Homo sapiens: one gene and its partners. The protein of the gene in region 2 interacts with the protein of the main gene of each other region in a biochemical or structural test. Each region holds a gene or a part of one and is shown on either strand. Other genes may lie near its edges.

Region 1 (3,500 bases), on a different chromosome or scaffold from region 2:
GCCATAAGCTCAGCACTTAATTTGTGTTACTTTATATGACTTGATTGCATGCATGTAGGTGAATTGACCTCACTTCTGGCTTTCATTTTGGCTCTTACTGATGTTTTTCCTTTGCCCCAATTTCCTCAATTGTTTATTTTAACCTGTAGTACCTCAGAAGTACCTTTTGTAAAAGGTATTGCACAAAGAGATGCACAGGAAACTTCACAGGATATCAGAAGGAAATATTAAGATGTTTATTTATATTTGGATTTTTATCTCATTCTCTTACATTTTCTGTTTGTGAGTTTATTTTTATAATTCACACCAAATATATATTTTATAGAAATGTACTAATTTTTACATTTTAATTAATTAATTTAGTTGATTAAAGGTAAAGGATTTTAAAAGTTTGGAGACCACTCATATAAAAACCAGACAAATATATAGAAAAAGGAAGGAGGGGAAAAGTACATGTGTGATAGATAGGTCCCTTGACTTGGAGAGCATTCCACATTTAAAGCAAAAAACATATATACATATATTTTAATGGGTTCTTTCAAGCCACTATTAAATTTTATAATTACTTTAACCCAGTTTTACCATAACTAAATATAAACAATTAAAATGGCTTGACCACTTAATGAAACTTAGTAATAGGTTCAGTTTTTAAAAATTCAGATGGCTTATTATTTTTACCCTTCTGTATTGTTTGAATTTTTTGTCAAATGTATGTGCTGTGTGTATACATATTTTAAGCATAAGATTGTAAAGAGATAGCAAAAAAGAAGGGGGAGAATTTTAAAAGATTACATCATGCAATTAATTTCTATGGGATTTTTAAAAATCACATACAGTGTTTTATTCATTTAATTTTCGCTTTGCATTAAGCTAATTAGTCAAGTTAAGCACAACTACAACTGAATGGATTCTCTCTCTGCATTACAACATTCTGAACTCTTTGCTTTTTCAGCCACTTTGGAGAGAGACTAGTTGTGAACCAATGTTACATAATGTGATGGGATATGATATAATGATGTGATGATATGATGCTGATTCCATTGCAGGCATGATCACACGGCTCCGCCACCCTGTGTCAACAAAGGCCAACAAGGTCCCCGACTCTGTGTCCCTGGGAAATGGTATGGATACATACTTGGGTTCTTAAACTCCATTTTCCATCATTTTTTATTTAAATATATGGTTAATTTACTGGCAAAAAAAAAAAAAAAGGAGGAAAGACAGGAAGGAGGCCTCTGTTCAGATTGTATCAGGAAGGATTTTCTTTAAAAAAAAAAAAAATCTGTCCTCTCAACCTAAATCTGTAAGCTTCTAGAATCACCAAGAAGATCATCAATTTGTTTTCTTATCAGACCCCATTATTAGCCTCCAGCACACCATTGTCTGTCCTATCTTTTTCCTGGATTTTGTGCCCACTGAGCAGAGCCAGTATTCAACCTTGTGTGTTAGGACGATCACATCCACTGCGATCACAGTTTAATTTTTTTATTAAAAAAATCTGACAATGTTTTACCAATCTAAGGACATCGAGTACATTTTGATGCTAAGCCTCTCCAAGATGCCTCTGATTGGCAAATTGTTTTTACTCTGAGCCTTCTTGTTAAATAACTGTAGCTACTTCAAGAATAGTGTTACCCTGGTGCCATTATCACGTAGCCACAAGACCACATCACTAAGGGTTTTTTTTTTTAACTTATCAACTTAAAATAAAAAGTCTTGTTTATATTGTCACTGTGAAACTCCCATTGGAGAAGAAATCACTTGGGAAGCTGTTAGCCCCAAAGCTTTCTATGCTCGTCCTAAAGAATGTCCGTCTTGCCTTGTTAGGAATCTGGGAACTGAAAAGAGAAGAGATTACCTTGTTGAAGGAGCTGGGAAGTGGCCAGTTTGGAGTGGTCCAGCTGGGCAAGTGGAAGGGGCAGTATGATGTTGCTGTTAAGATGATCAAGGAGGGCTCCATGTCAGAAGATGAATTCTTTCAGGAGGCCCAGACTATGATGTAAGTTTTTCCCAAGGAATGGCTGTTTAGCCCTCATCATGGGAGGGCATTAGCACTAATAGGCCTGCTGTTAACTTTGCAAGGCCTAGAGCAAAAGTCCACATACTGTATCATAGACATAAATATTTAGAAGTTATAAATTGAACTAACAGACTATTAAATCAAATCAGTCTTATGCTCCTACTTTGACAAATATACCTTCATAACAACCTGAAAGGCCATATTCAAATTGAGAATTCCCAAGACTCTACAAAGAAACCAGCCTCTGGCCTGTGGTCTTCCAAACTCCACCCCTCCTGCTTCTCCCCTCATACCCAACTCCGTCCTGCACTATAAGGGGCCTCAGTAGTTATGTACAGACACAGCATTCAGTACACACAAGCTCCCTCTTTGTCTCCCGCAAACAATTATCTAGTGGCTAATGATCTTGGCTAGGGGTAGTGTGCTTTACCCTTAAGCGGACAGACTCCTTAAGGAAGAGTCAGCACAGGTCCTGAAAGAGGCCTCAGGACTATATGGTTGGGTGATTTCAGAGTCCTGGTGCTCTAAGGGTGGCAGAGAAAGGGACATATAGGGTCGGAGTAGGCATGTCTCCTTGGCCCTGTGGCCTCCTTGCCCTGTGGGGAGGTGCATGGTGGGATGAAGAACAGAGTGGGGCTACCACCCAGAACTAATGCAGTACTGAAAATTAATGCTCTACCAACAATATCCTTTTCCTTCTTGGTACCTTCAATACAGTCTAATACTCTTCCTAATGTGTCTCAGCTCCCAGCACAACAGCCTTCAATTATTGGCAATACATATGTGTTCTCTTTCCCTCTGTGTCTTCTCTCTCTCTCTCTCTTCCCCCTCTCTCTCTTTCTCTCTCCCTCTCTCTCCCTCTTCCTCTCTCTCCTTCTCTCTCTCTCTCCCTCTCTCTCCCTCTCTCAGTTGTATATAATTCTCCCTCTTCTTGTCAACATAGTAAATCAGACTTTGTAGAGTGACCACCATTCAGGTTTGCTGAGGTCTGGGAGGTTTTAGCACTGAAAGTCCTGTGTCCTAGGAAACCTCCCAGCCCCAGGCAAACCAGGACAGTTGGTCACTCTACTTTTAGAGAATCAATCAGTATGGTATGAAAAATGATGTTATAGTAGGTCTCTGGTCAAAAATAGTTGAAATAAAAAAATTCCTAGCCTGCTAGAGATTGAGAGCACTTTTTAAATTTTTACTTAAACAGTTATACTGTACAGTGTTTACAGGCATTTCTCTAAGCACTTTACAAATATTAACTCACTTAATCCCCATAAGAAACCTATGAGGGTTGTACCATCGTTATCTTAGATTTACAGGAAACCGAAGCACAGAAATGTTGAATAACTTGTCCAGAGTCGGCAAGCTAGTAAAAGTCGAAAAGCAGAGATACAAACCCAGGCAGACATTCTAGGGTCCATTTCTTTAGTTATTCTTTTATGAAGACCAAAGGAATTAGGAAAGTCAGAACAATCACTTTTACCATAAT
Region 2 (4,667 bases):
AAGGGCCAAATCTGAGTGAGACTAAGACACTTGTTGACGCTGATCCTTGTGGAGAGACAGAAGGTGATGGACAGCGGGCACTGCGTCCCACAGGCCTGAGGAAGCCCTTCTCCATGCGGGCCAAAGCCCTGATTCTTGACCAGCCCTGGGGAGCACATGGACTCCATTCCACAGGGGAGGCGGCTGAGGCTTTGAAAGGTGGCCCCTCAGAGGGCTTTCTCAGGGCGAAGCAGCACCTGTGATTTATTTGGGCTTAGGGACTGGGGTGTTCCAGAGAAGTCAAAGGCATGAGGTACTTTTCTGGCCTGTTAACATCTGCTGGACAAGATTTTCTTGCTGACAAATAGATCCTCACAGACTGAGCTAGAGCCATATACCCTTGGGGCTGCCAGTGTGTGCCCAGGACATTCATCCTGACATCAAAGAGCTCTGGCGGCTCTAGAGTCCTGTTTTATGATTTCTATCCTCTGATGCTGTGAAACTGATATTACCTAGAAGTCCCGGCTGCTGTTAGTTGCTGCCCCTGACCTGGCACTTGGAAGTTAGATGCCCAGAGACATCAGGGTCCCTGCTCTGCACCACGTGGAACAGTGTGCAAAGGGACTGCTTTTGCATTGCTGCCACGGCACAGCTGAGGCCGAAGCGGGGTGCTCCTGCAGGCAAGGCTGTCTTGAAGGCCAGGCTGCCGTGCCCCCGAATGTCTGCCTCCTCTCCCACACTCTCCGCCCTGCAGCTCAGCCTGGCACCCGCACCCACACCGGGCCACCTGCAAACTCCTGCTTTTCGGTGGAATGTGTCATTCTGCCCTCCCCACCAGGGTGCGGAAACCTGGCCCAACTCAGGGCTTGGCTTGAGTGGTCCCTAGCAATGGCACAGGGCACTGCAGTGGGGCTGGCTGGCCTCTGGCCCCTCACTTCAACAGAAGGGCCTGTTTTCCACTGTTTAAAGATATCCGCGGGTCCCTCCTCTCCGCCACCTGCTTCCCCCTTAGGGAATGCCCATCAGGCCTATTTTGAAAGCACAGCTGATGGTGGAGGAACTGGAGTCGGAAGACCTAGGCTCAGCTTCGGCCACCTGTCAGCATCGCCCTCAGCCGAGGGACACGTTTCTGAGCAGCGTTTGGCTTCTCTGTCAATACGTCATCACCACTGCCTCAACCACACGCTCTCACCTGACTGTTGGGATACTTAAACGTACGAGCACACGGGCAGTCAGCACAAGCTGACAGCAAAGAAGTGGTTCTTAGCAAGGCAGTACCTTCAGTGCCTGGTTCACTTCTTTTATATCTTCCATCTTCAGCTTGGACCTAAGGAAAAAAAAAAGGCCATTTCATAGCAGTGAGAGAGAGTGAGGCTCTGAATCCCTAACACAGCTGGCTCTCAGGACTAGCTTTGTGAGGATACCGGACTTGTGAGGAGACCCAGAACGTGAGTTGTTAAAATGCCTTCCGCCTCTGTACAATCCCAGAGTTGCCTCATCACACTGGCTCCCGTCTGCTGAGGGCTGAGGCTGAGCCTGGGACTGCATCTGGCACGAGAACACACTGCTTAGCCTGCAGGGGCTCAAAAAGACTTTGAGGGAGGCTGAGGCGAGAGGATGGCCTGAGGCCAGAAGTCCAAGACCTGGCCCTGTTCTGCACTAGTCTCTACCGCTCTCCCCAGCAGGAACCTGAGTCTGCAGGCTTCTCCCCGGCCTCCATTCTGCTGCCTGCTGTCTGGAAGGGGGAAGGCTCAGATGGCATAGCCATTTGTTCTTGCTCCATTCTTGTTCAGTGTCAGAACAATTCCTTTGTTTACACAAGAGACAGGACTGAACATGGTCTAAATTGGCAGAACTAAACCAAATAAAATGAAGCAGTTTGTGCAATTGAGGGAAACAGTCTGATCCTTTTTTTTTTTTTTTTGAGACAGGATCTTGCTATATTGCCCAGGCTGGAATGCAGTGGTGCAATCATGGCTCACTGCAACCTTGACCTCCTGGGCTCAAGTGATCCTCTCACTTTAGTCTCCCAAGTAGCTGCGACTACAGGTGCATGCCATCACGCCTGGCTAATTTTTGTATTTTTTCTAGAGGTGGGGTTTTGCCATGTTGCCCAGGCTGGTCTTGAACTCCTGACCTCAATTGACCCACCTGCCTCAGCCTCCCAAAGTGCTAGGATTATAGGCCTGAGCCTTTTTCTTTTTTTCTTTTTTTTTTTTGAGATGGAGTCTTGCTGCATTGGCCAGGCTGGAGTGCGGTGGTGTGATCTCGGCTCACTGCAACCTCTGCTTCCTGGGCTCAAGCAATTCTCCTGCCTCAGCTTCCCAAGTAGCTGGGATGACAGGCGCCCGACACCACACCCAGCTTATTTTCTTGTACTTTTACTAGAGATGGGGTTTCACCATATTGGCCTGGCTGGTCTTGAACTCCTGACCTCAAGTGATCCACCTGCCTCGGCCTCCCAAAGTGCTGGGATTAGAGGCCTGAGCCCCCACGCCCAGCCTGGCCTGGGTCTTTCTTAAAAGCTGAGATCAGTCTGAACTATCATCAGATTAGACTCATCTCAGTGACAAAATGGCAGGTCTCTGGGAAACACAGGCTAGACTTCGAAGGGAGGGATTAGAAAACAGCATCAGGGCATTTAGAAAAATCCCTGTGGCTTTTACTAAAGATCGGGAGGCAGCTCCTTCCCTTCCTGGTCCGGCTGCAGAAACAGGAAATAGGCCAGCAGATTGACAGGATGAGAAGAGGCTGCGCAGATGGACAGACCTTGGGAAGCCAGGTCAACAAGGCAAACTGAACATACAAGAACTCTGGGAAACACAATTTAGGAAGAATCCAGATGTTCCCAAGCCAATGAAACTGGAAACTGTTCCTGTAGCTAATGTAGGGCCTGCGAAGAGGCTTTGCCATCTCTGTCATCCGGTATAGGCTTGCAAGAGGAAGAAGGGAAGAGGGGAGAGAGCACAAAAGCAACTCCTCAGGTAGTCCTGTCTGGGTTTGCAAACACCTGATGCTGTGACACCCACAGCACTCACTGGGAGGGAATGGTGGCCAGGCAGCTCACACTGGGATTTGGAAGCTAGGTTAGCCGGTAGTGCCAGGCGGCCACAAAGTGCAACAATACATTTGTTTGTTTGTTTTTGAGACAGAGTTTCACTCTTATTGCCCAGGCTGGAGTGCAATGGCGCGATCTCGGCTCACCGCAACCTCCGCCTCCCAGGTTCAAGCGATTCTCCTGCCTCAGCCTCCTGAGTAGCTGGGATTACAGGCGCGCTCCACCATGCCCGGCTAATTTTATATTTTTAGTAGAGATGGGGTTTCTCCACGTTGGTCAGGCTGGTCTTGAACTCCTGACCTCAGGTGATCCACCCACCTCAGCCTCCCAAAGGGCTGGGATTACAGGCATGAGCCACCACACCCGGCCACAATGATACATTTTAAAGATCAGAGACCAACCACAGTTTCGAGGTCTATGGTCCACTAGGAGGGGACCTGTGACACTGCCTTGCTGTCCATCCAATGTAAAGAGGAAAACACTGGCTGCAAACCCCAGAAGCCAGCTCCACGCCAGCTCTGTTCCACGTCTGCTTCTGGTGAGTGCTCTCGGGATGCCCTCACAGCTGGCCTATGCTCTGAGCATGGGGACAGACACTGGGCCTTGCGTCCCTCAAGGAGCTCCCTGGGGGTTGGGAAGGAACGGGCCAGAGCACGGCAAGTTGACAGGCCAGACGGGAGCAGCACAGGGCACTCAGCTGAGTGGGTGGCAGGCAGGGCGGAGGGTGGGAGGGGAGGAAGCAGCGGCCATGGGCTAGTCTAGAAAGGTAAGAGGCACAGGAGAGACGGCGAGTGGCCAGCACCTGCATCTGGGAGTGGGCAGACCGCATTCCCACCAGAGACATCAGATTCCCTGACCAGCTATTTGTTTTTTTTTTTTGAGATGGATTCTCACTTTTGTTGCCCAGGCTGGAGTGCAGTGGTGCAATCTCGGCTTACTGCAACCTCTGCCTCCCGGGTTCAAGCGATGCTGCTGTCTCAGCCTCCCGAGTAGCTGGGATTACAGGTGCCCACCATGCCTGGCTAATTTTTGTATTTTTAGTAGAGACGGGGCTTCACTATGTTGGCCAGGCTGGTCTCGAACTCCTGACCTCAGGTGATCTGCTCACCTCAGTCTCCCAAAGTGCTGAGATTACAGGCGTGAGCCACCGCACCCGGCCTATTTTCTTAATAGTACTAGACTCTACAAATTTCTGGTGCAGACCAGGCTGTGCTGAGGTCGTGAGCCCCATCTCCTTGGTCATGGTGCTTATGTCAGGCATGGGTACTCGGGAGCAGGGTCAATCTCGGGTGATCCTGGCAGCTATGCACAAAGAAGAGGGAGTTTGTTCCTCTGATAGATGGCCTTGCTGAGTGCTGTTTTGCCCCTGCAGGGTCCAGACCCACCTGTGAGGCAGACAGGATAGCAGAGGTAGGAGACAGAGACCGATTCCTGATGGCTTCTTTTGCTTAAGCCACTTTGAGTTGGATTTCTGTTACTTGCAACCATGCGCCCTGACTCGAGGAGAAAAGCTACCCACTATGTTGAAAATGCAGAATCATCACACAAATGGGCAAGTTCCACAGTCCGCAGTGTGATCCACCCCAAGGCCCAGGCGTCCACAGCAACCTATCTAGACTGGGACACCAAG
Region 3 (5,136 bases), about 64 Mb from region 2:
GCAACAGCCCAGCTCCTACCCCCAACCCTACTATTCCCTATCTTTTACCCAGGTTTACTTTTCTCCATAGCACTTCTCACCTCCTGACATATCATATATTTATTGTTTCACCCCACATGAATTTATGTTCCAACAGAATCTAGTTTGTTCCCTGCTCTATCCTAGTACCCAGAACAATGCCTGGCACATAGCTAATGCTAAGTATTTTCTGCAGGAAAGAAAAGAGAGAGGGAGGGGAGATGAGAGAATGGAAGGGGAGGAAGGATGGTTGGTTGTTGGGGCATTGTATTTGATAGAATATAATGGGAGATAAAACACTTTTGACTGTTTCTTGAAGTTAAAGTATGCTCTGGCCCAGAGGTTTCCCTAATTTTGGCATATCCTAACCAAACCAACATTTAACCTTCCCATAATTTGTTTCCCCAAAAACAACGAGAAAAGGAAAAGGGTGGGGTGGTGGTGAGGGGAGGGGGTACTGCTAGGCACTCTGTGTTACTGATATCGCTCCATAAAGACAGGGACGGCCGGGTGCGGTGGCTCACGCCTGTAATCCCAGCACTTTGGGAGGCTGAGGCAGGCGGATCACGAGGTCAGGAGATCCAGACCATCCTGGCTAACACGGTGAAACCCCGTCTCTACTAAAAATTAGCCAGGCGTGGTGGCGGGCGCCTGTAGTCCCAGCTACTCGGGAGGCTGAGGCAGGAGAATGGTGTGAACCCGGGAGGCACAGTTGCAGTGAGCCGAGATCGCGCACTGCACTCCAGCCTGGGCGACAGAGCGAGACTCCTTCTGGGAAAAAAAAAAAAAAAAAAAAAAAAAAAAGACAGGGACTTGGGAGCGCACAGTAAACACTTAATAAACACTGTCAAATGACTAAAGACCAGGGACCTCCTGAAATGCTCTACTCTGCATAACCTTTCTCTAGGACTTTTTCTTATCTCTGAGCTGATGGAAATCCCAATAATCAGATTAAATTTCCTGTTACCCTAACATGCTGGAGAGCTTAGAGACAGATTAATTTTATTTAGAAAAAAATAAAGTAACTTTTCTTATATCTTAGGGTTCTTGGAGTAAAATTCATACATGCTGCAAGTCTATGGAAGTATTTCAAAGAGAATATTTGAGGAAGGAGAACTAGAACTGTAAGGAAAACCTTAGTCTAACTGGAAAAGTAACCTCACTCACAGTTCATGGAAGACCAAATAAAATGTGGGCCAATTATAAGAAACTAGAATATGTGAGTGTTAGGACTTAAGAAAACATTAGTTTAACTTTGTTTTAGGATGAAACAGACAAGTAGAGTCCCAAGGGTTTTTGTATTCAAAATCAATTAGGTATTGGCTGAAATTATTTTTTACCATCTGGGCAAGAAGGAACAAGAGGCAAGGCTTAAAGCTATTTGTATAAAAAAGATTTTACATTTTCTCAATATACATTTTAGAAAGACTGTCGCCCCCCCACTCCAGATCTCATCTTGCGCAATATGCCTAAGATACACTGCTCTTGATTTGTGAAATAATTGAGTTTCCGAATAATTTACTGAGTTTCTGAATATTAAAAATATGAGTAAAAAATAAATCGACATTAACATCTGCTTAATAGTGATAAAATATACTTTTATTTACTTTGTTGAGTCAGAGGGTTGTAAAAAAAATTATTGCTAAAGTAGATATCAGGCAAACAGAAAGGTGCTTTAGAAGTCCAGTTACCTTGGAGTTTATTTAAACTAAGAGAAAAAAGTCATAATGTTTTCATGCAATACATACTTGGTTCTCCAAATAACAACTGTGTGACATATAGCAGAAGGAATTAAGGAATGCTGCACTTGTGATCCATACAAAACACCAACATTTTAGGTTGTACATAATTAGAGAAATATCTGAAACACTTTTTAAAACACTGTAGTAGCCAATACATAGAGGCATGCCGTAGGTGGGCACAGGAATGCAGTTTAGAAAAGAAAAAAAAAAATCACATAGGAACTACTCAATTTCTTTAAAATCACTGAGCAAGAACAGCAACATTGAACTTTCATACTGATTTTACACAACTTCTATACAGTACCTTGACTTAAATCCAAGAGCAAAAGTTAAGACTCTCCTCCTCTATTTTTGGTAAACAACTGCATGGTAAACTTAGATGACTCTTCCCCCTGGATTTTACCTGGGAGTGGCCTTTTTACATTTTTATTTAAAAGAGGGCAGGTTTGGCACTTTTATACTGATGTCACCAATGTTAATATTTCTTGGGATCTCAGGAAGATTCATATTCTTTACAGCTGATACAGCACGGGCTGGAGCTCCTGCTAAGCCAGCCTGTATACAGAAGCAAATAAAAGAAAAAGAAAATGTACAACTCAGGTGTAGCTCATCATAAAACACTTACAATGGAAGACAATGATAAAAGATTTTCATATAACAAGCTTAGGGACCAGATGGTAGTTTGAATTGGTATGGAATGGTTACTTTGAAATACTAATCTATAAAGAGAAAACAGTGACACATTAAAAAATACAGTGAACACATGCAATGATAACAATGTAAAGATTTAAATACAAATTAATGTGCACTACCACACAATATTCACATGATAAAACCTAAATCTTCACCTATATCTTGATTTAACTGACAGATAGCATGAAGCATGATTTACATTAGTTTCCTTATTAAATATCTCTTGCAACGATTGTGATAGATTTTCTTTTGCTTTTAAAATGGCATTTATTAGCAATATGTGCTGTGAAATAAAAATTGCAAGTAATAGATTGTGCTTGTTTAATTTCTTAGGGATAAACCCTTAAAACATTTTAAAACAATAAAATTAGTTTTTTAAATTGTGAGGGCTCTTTTAAACTTTTCTAATAAAGTTCTAGAACATTAAAAAAATAGGCTTTCAAGTAAAGCCTCAATCCAAAGAATATAGTTCTGCCTAAAGATGAAACTACACGAAGAGGATCATTCCAACCCTTTGATGCATTAGTAAAAATATAACGATTAAAAATGTTTTGTCATATAGCATAGATTCAGCAACATATATTCAGCTTACAGTTTACAAATTTAGAGAAAGAAAAGCATAAATGCAAGAGGTAGTAAATATAAATAAATGAATTCTAAAATTTCCAGTAAGTACCACTAGTGCATAATATTTGGCTTTCCTATTAGTAGGAACATTTGTAATTTGTGAAATAATTTTAAAAGAAAATATGCTTACAAATAAAAGAAAATGCATACATATCATTTTTCTCACCTACGTTAACAGCCTTCATATTTGAGGTTTAATTTATATACCAATTACATTTCATTACTTTTTATTCAGGCTATATAATAAAGCAAAGTCAACAAAGACATCTGAGTTCAGTGGCATCATTTTGTACAAAAATAGACAACAAAAACGAATCTTCCACTTTGATTAGATTATATATGGCAATGTCCATAAAATTAGAAACACTAGCTTTAAGGTCCCTTTTCATAATTTTAGTTTTCTTTTCTTATGTAATCCTACCTTTGTTAATTAAAATAAAAATAATAATAAAGCTGTTACCTGAGAAAAATCTTGACTGATACAAAATAGGCCAGTGTAAACTATTTGCTAAATAAAGGATACAAACATTGTTAAGCAATGAAATAAAAGCCATGGATTATCAATTCAGAATTGGAAATAATAGAAAAATTAGTAGAATAGTATTAATAATAAGTATATTCTACACAGGCAATGATAAGAGTGATACAAATGAATAACTCCATACCCAATTAAATAGTGAATAGGGCTGGAGAAGTTTTATAATTTAATGGATGTTAGTTATTTTTGATGTACAACTAAAAATGTGATTGACCTCTATACTTATACCTACCTGAAGCAATGAAGTTTTTGTTACCCCCCCTTCCTTCCTGCTCCCCCAAAGATGTTGGAGATACAACTAAATAATAATTAAGGCAGCATGTATAATATTTGAAAGGGTCTTTAATTTGATCGTTTCAAGTTAAAGGTCTAGCTACCAAAATTTAGAGTGGGTTGGGATCAAAGAAGAATCCAATTCAAAGAGGTTTACCATCTTTTGGCTTTCTTTTACCAGGAAGTATGTTGTCTACTAAGGAAGAAAAATTTACAAAATTGCAGACGTCCTGGAGGTAGTATCATTTTTTAGATAGGAGGATTTTGTAATTTTTCTAGTTAAAAGACCAATTTGCCACTATTTTTACTTAGGAATTTCCATAAAGAAGACAAATAATGAACTGACTATAGAAAAGTATTGACAAAATATTTGAGTATAAATATTTTAAAGGTGTGAATTATTAAGGGATTTTATTATTGTGAGAGAAATTGTGCGTGTGTGTGTGTGTGTTTATCTGTGTATTTTATTGGACACTATGGTTTACACTTATAAATAGTAAACATAATGTTTTCAGTATTAAATGTACATGAAGCTCTCTTTTCCATAATATCCTGTACCATGAAGAGCTAAACTAAAGCAAAAAATAAATTAAAAAAATTTAAAAATGCATCCTGTTAAATTTCATTAGATTGAGTTGTATCATTGTGACCAAAGATGGTGTCGACTGTTGGCTGCTAACAAGAATACATAAAGTCAATATAGCAATTGATTTAAATAGCATATTTGTGCTTAATATGTAAAACCAAAAGAAGTTTCTAAGTACAACAAACTACAATTCTTCTAAACATAAGCAGCAAGCCATAGACATGCAAAAGATAGGAACTATTCAGAACACGCAAATGAATTAGGAGGATCAAATTATTTCTCAAGCATGTTCAATACTTTTGTGTAGTATGCCATGAATTTAAATGGTAGGAAAATTTAAAGTTGTAATAGGTGCTTTAAGTTTTAATTAAACTAACGTTTTAAAAAGAAATCATATTATGCAAAATATAAAATGTTGAGAAAATATGATAAGGACAATTGATCAACAGATGTTTAAACCAGCTAGCAATGTTTATATATAAAAATTTAGGGCTAAAAAAAAAGACTTTATGTCACTCAGTCAACACCAGAATGGCTATAAAACAAATTTCATTTTCAGACATTCATGAAAGTGATGCCTGAAACATTTTTATTAAAACATAAAATGTAAAGTAACTTTCCATTAGGCAATCAGTTTGCTGACACAGAGGTATGAAGTA
Region 4 (5,312 bases), on a different chromosome or scaffold from region 2:
TGACCAACACAGCGAAACCCCATCTTTACTAAAAGTACAGAAATTAACGGGGCGTGGTGACGCACGCCTGTAGTCCCAGCTACTCAGGAGGCTGAGGCAGGAGAATCACTTGAACCACAGAGGCAGAGGTTGCAGTGAGCCAAGATCGCACCACTGCACACTCCAGCCTGGGTGACAGAGCAAGACTCCGTCTCAAAAAACAAAACAAAACAAAAAAAGATATATCATCTCACCCCAAGTAGGCTTATATCCAAAAGATAGGCAATAACAAATGCTGACAAGAACATGGAGAAAAGGCAACCCTTGTACACTGTTAGTGGAAATGTCTGGAGAACAGTTTGGAGGTTCCTTAAAAAACTAAACATAGGCCGGGCACGGTGGCTCACACCTGTAATCCCAGCACTTTGGGAGGCCGAGGTGGGTGGATCGCGAGGTCAAGAGATCAAGACCATCCTGGCCAACATGGTGAAACCCTGTCTCTACTAAAAATACAAAAAATTAGCTAGGCGTGGTGGCAGGCACCTGTAATCTCAGCTACTTGGGAGGCTGAGGCAGAAGAAGAATCACTTGCACCCAGGAGGCAGAGGTTGCAGTGAGGCAAGATCACGCCATTGCACTCCAGCCTGGGAAAAAAGAGTGAAACACCATCTCAAAAAAAAACACTACAAATAGGCCAGGTGCAGTGGCTCACGCCTGTAATCCCAGCACTTTGGGAGGCCGAGTCGGGCAGATCACTTGCGGCCAGGAGTTCAAGACCAGCCTGGCCAACATGGTGAAACCCCATCTCTACTAAAAATATGAAAATTAGCCAGACTTGGTGGCGGGCGCCTGTAATCCCAGCTACTCAGGAGGCTGAGGCAGGAGAATCGTTTGAACCTGGGAGGCGGAGGTTGCAGTGAGCTGAGATCATGCCATTGCACTCCAGCCTGGGTGACAGTGCAAGACTCCATCTCAAACAAACAAACAAAAACTAAAAATAGTGCTACCATATGATCCAGCAATCCCAATGCTATGTATATACCCAAAAGTAAGGAAATCAACATATTGAAGTTATATCTGCACACCTACGTTTATTGCAGCACTGTTCACCATAGCCAAGATTTGAAAGCAACTTAAGTGTCTATCAACAGACAAATAGATAAAGAAAATACGGTACATATGCACAATGCAGTACTATAAAAAAAGAATAAAAAAGAATGAGATCCTGTCATTTGCAACAACATGGATAGAACTAGAGGTCATTATTTTAAGTGAAATAAGCCAAGCACAGAAAAACAAACTTCACATGTTCTCACTTATTTGTGAGGGCTAAAAATTAAAAGAATTGAGCTCATGGAGTTGGAGAGTAGAATAATGGTTACCAGAGGCTGAGAAGGGTAGTGGGTGGGGGAAGTGGGGATAGTTAATGGGTACAAAATTATAGTTAGATAGAATGTGTAAGATCTAGTATTTGACAGCACAACAGGGTGACTACAGTCAACAATAATTTATTATACATTTATAAATAACTAAGAGAGTGTAATTTGATTGTTTGTAACACAAAAGATAAATGCTTGAGAGGATGGATACCCCATTCCCTGATGTGATTGTTATGCATTATATGCCTGTATCAAAATATCTCACATACCCCATAAATATATACACCTACTATGTACCCATAAAAATTAAAAAATAAAAAGAAGACGGTCTTGCTAGCAGACTGGCTCTAGAGACTTTCTCCCTTGTGGCTTTGGAGAAATTAAGCATCCGTGTTGGGAGGCCCCTATGGCAATGAGCTAAGGACGGCCTCTAGAAGGCAAGGGCAGCCCCCAGCTGACAGCCAGCAAGAAGCCAGGGCCACAATCCTACAACTGCAAGGAAGTGGATCGTGGCACCATGTGACTTGGAAGTGGACCTTTCCCCAGTACAGCCTCCAGATAAAAACTCAGCCTTGGCTGACACCTCAGTTGTAGCCTTGCATAAGATCCAACTAAGCCATACCTGAATTCTCGACCCATAGACACTGAGAAAATAAACGTGTGTTGTTTGAAGCCACCAAATTTATAGTAATTTATTATGTAGCAGAAAACTAATACAATTGATTTAAAAATGTGAAAGTAGAAAAAAATTTGGAGGAAATTCTTTTTAATTTTTATTTATTTTTGAGATGGATCTTGCTCTGTGGCCCAGGCTGGAGTGTGGTGGTACCATCTCAGCTCACTGTAACCTCCACCTCCTGGGTTCAAGCAATTCTCCTGCCACAGCCTCCCAAGTAGCTGAGATTTCAGCGCACCACCACACCCAGCTAATTTTTTTGTACTTTTAGTAGAGACAGGGTTTTGCCATGTTGGTCAGGCTGGTCTTGAATTCATGACCTCAAATGACCCACCCACCTTGGGCTCCCAAAGTGCTGGGATTACAGGTGTGAGCCACTGAACCCAGCCTGGAGAAAATTCTAAGTGAAAAGTTTAATTGAAATGTGAATGGGGAAAAAAAAGTATTAAATATGAAAGCATTGAAAAGAAGCAGAAAAGTTTAAAATATTGGACAATAGACAAAAGTACAACTTCTGAATGACTATATATAGGAATAAAAAATAAGGAAATATATAATTAATGGTGGTCTTCTAAATGGTGGACTTATTAATAGTTTAAACTTATAATTTTCTGAGTTTTCCAAATGTTCTATGATAAGCATGTATTACCTTTAGCATATTAAAAAAAGTTTACGTTTTTAAAAGCAATTCTGCAAAATTTGTCAGAATCTTCTATTCACTGTAAAGGCGGTCACATGGGAGGGTTGTAGATCCCACTGTGCCCCTGGCAGACCCTCCTGCCACACATCTCACCTGACACATAAAAGCAAACTAACCTGCTAGGCAGTTTCCCCAGGGTCTATATCCAGGTGGATGTAATAGCCACTTTGATTACCAACCCCCCCATCCCCCGCCACCTGCATGTTATGCCTTTGTGGCCTCTGGTCTAGTATCTGATTATCTGCTGATCAATAGCAGGGCAGAGGCCTCATCTTGGTCATTTCCTTGGCCTCATCCTGGGCCAGGATCTGGCATGCCGTGGGCCCATGTCCAAATTGGAGAGAATGACTGAGATTACTGTGGCCTTTTAGCTGGGCAGATTGCCACTCATGGTCCCAGGATGGGAAGCATCACTACTGTTTTGCAAGCATGGTCATGTGCGCATCCAAACCACCTCCCTCCTAGTACCCCAAGGACTCCCCCTTCTTTACCACTCCCAGAAGAGGCTGGGAAGAAAGGAGAAAGAAAGGGAGGACAAAAATCTTTATTGAATCAAATAACCATTCTAAGGGGCCTGCAAAAACTCACTTGCAGGTGAAGGGCGCCCTGGAGGTGAGTGTCCATTTGCCTGAACAGCCTACTCTGGGTTCCCTGACAGGGGTCATTCCTAGGGGAGGGTTCAGCTGTATATACCCACAGCTCGCTGTGCCAACCCTGATGACAGCTGTTACTGCTGTGTTTAAAATGTTTATTTTTGTCCTGTTTCTCCTACTTGGCTGTGAGTATCTGGAGACCTGTAAATGTGTCTCACTCATTGTCATATCCTCAGGACGCAGCACAGTACCAGGCAAATAGTAGGCCTACATGTTAAATAAATGAACAAATGCACATGTAGCTCACAGTAACAACTTGGGGGAAATGACATGTGGACAGGCCCAGGCTTATGAAAACATGCCAACCTCACCATCCTGGGGTTTAGGACTCTGGCTCAGTGCTGAGCATGTCAGACTCCCACCTACATATATGTTAAATAAATGAACAAATGCACATGTAGCTCACAGTGACAACTTGGGGGAAATGACATGTGGACAGGCCCAGGCTTATGAAAACATGCCAACCTCACCATCCTGGGGTTTAGGACTCTGGCTCATTGCTGAGCATGTCAAGACTCCCACCTACCTGGGTGGCTCCCCACCCAGGCTGCTTCATCTTTTCAAACATTCCTCCCACTTGCTCCTTCCTCCCACCTGAACAAAGGAAGTATACAAATATTTTTTCAACGATTGAACGCTTCCCCATGGTGCTCTTTCTCCCTCTAACTTCTCTCTCTCCCCCTCTAACTTCTCTCTCTCCAATCTGCTTTGCCCACAACACTGATAACAAGCTCAGGGTCACATGGTCCAGTGTCTCTCCTCCTTCCACCTGAAGACCTAAGGTTTGGAAGTTACTTTTGATAAGGCTAGCATATTTAATTATACAGACTCAGTTGCCTCCACATGTTGCTGCTGTCCTTTGACTCCTGATTACAGTCACAGCACTTGGTGGCCCTGCCTACCTCACCTTGAGCCTCTGGGGCTCACTCTGGCCACAATGGATCAAAGAAGCCACTGAAAAAGATAAGTGCCACCATCCAAAGACTCCCACGCACAGTGGACATGGCAGGGATGCTACAGTCTCCAGGGGATATCCCTGCTATAAATCTGTAGACCCCAGCCACCTAGCCAGAGGTTTTGCTTCAAGGATTGGCAGAGTCTTTTTATAAAAGGGCCAGAGAATAACTATTCTAGGCTTTGTGGGCAATACAGTCTGTTGCAACTAGTTAACCCTGCTGTTGTAGCACAAAAGCAGCCATAGGTAATTTGTAAATGAATGAGCAGGGCTGTGTTCCAACAAAACTTTATTACAAAAACAGGAATAGGCCAAATTCAGCCTATGGGCAGTAGTTTGCCAATCCCTGTCCTGCTTAACTGAGTGGGAGAGTGTGGAAATCGTCATGGTGTTTGATGTCCCTGACACCTTGAAAAGCTCAGCACATTATGCTTCATTTTAGGAGAATCTCCTGGAACCATCTCAGGAGATGCCAGACAGCTAGGAGGCTCTGAACACCCTGATACTACAACTTAGTTGAGCCTCATCCTTGGCTGTGTATCTCTTATAACCTTTCACCTTGGGAATGACAGTGGCCACCAGCACCACCCAAGCCCAAGCAGAGACTCACCCCCTTATCTTTGGCACAGACTGGCCAAGCATTGTCAAGCTTTGGAAAGAAGCACAGACCACATCTGGGATGCATGTTCTCCCATCAGTACCTGCCACTGTTGGGCCCTTCCCTTATCCCAATCAACTGTGGTTCTTCACAGCCCCAGAGTTCCAAGGTGGCAGACAGGACTCTTGTACTAGCAGACTGGAGGTCACAGCTTCATAGGAGAGTCTCTTCAACAGTGACCACCAGCACTACAAGGTCTTTGTGGGCACTGGGGTAGCATTGGTTATGTGGGCAGACCAGCCACCTTCCCTGATTCTTCTTTTCCAAAATAGGAGCTAGAGTTCAGCCCTGCCTAGGGAGGGCCAAAAGAAT

What was found.
Region 1: of the proteins of RUFY1 (region 2) and BMX, one has a biochemical effect on the other in vitro, tested with the Homo sapiens proteins (one study listed by BioGRID).
Region 3: the proteins of RUFY1 (region 2) and AP3S1 form a complex in vitro, tested with the Homo sapiens proteins (one study listed by BioGRID).
Region 4: the proteins of RUFY1 (region 2) and AP3B2 form a complex in vitro, tested with the Homo sapiens proteins (one study listed by BioGRID).

Annotation. Positions count from the first base shown.
Region 1 is NC_000023.11:15,535,307-15,538,806, forward strand, and holds part of BMX (cytoplasmic tyrosine-protein kinase BMX), read left to right. Parts: intron 1-1,046; coding exon 1,047-1,121; intron 1,122-1,827; coding exon 1,828-1,999; intron 2,000-3,500. UniProt on the Homo sapiens protein: Non-receptor tyrosine kinase that plays central but diverse modulatory roles in various signaling processes involved in the regulation of actin reorganization, cell migration, cell proliferation and survival, cell adhesion, and apoptosis.
Region 2 is NC_000005.10:179,602,515-179,607,181, reverse strand, and holds part of RUFY1 (RUN and FYVE domain-containing protein 1), read right to left. Parts: exon of another isoform or gene 4,410-4,667; intron 3,576-4,409; exon of another isoform or gene 3,441-3,575; intron 1,307-3,440; coding exon 1,258-1,306; intron 1-1,257. UniProt on the Homo sapiens protein: Activating adapter involved in cargo sorting from early/recycling endosomes. Regulates retrieval of proteins from endosomes to the trans-Golgi network through interaction with the dynein-dynactin complex.
Region 3 is NC_000005.10:115,910,541-115,915,676, reverse strand, and holds the end of AP3S1 (AP-3 complex subunit sigma-1), read right to left. Parts: intron 3,589-5,136; coding exon of another isoform or gene 3,541-3,588; exon of another isoform or gene 2,322-3,540; intron 2,316-2,321; coding exon 2,187-2,315; 3' UTR 1,596-2,186; downstream 1-1,595. UniProt on the Homo sapiens protein: Part of the AP-3 complex, an adaptor-related complex which is not clathrin-associated. The complex is associated with the Golgi region as well as more peripheral structures.
Region 4 is NC_000015.10:82,671,091-82,676,402, forward strand, and holds part of AP3B2 (AP-3 complex subunit beta-2), read right to left. Parts: intron 1-5,312.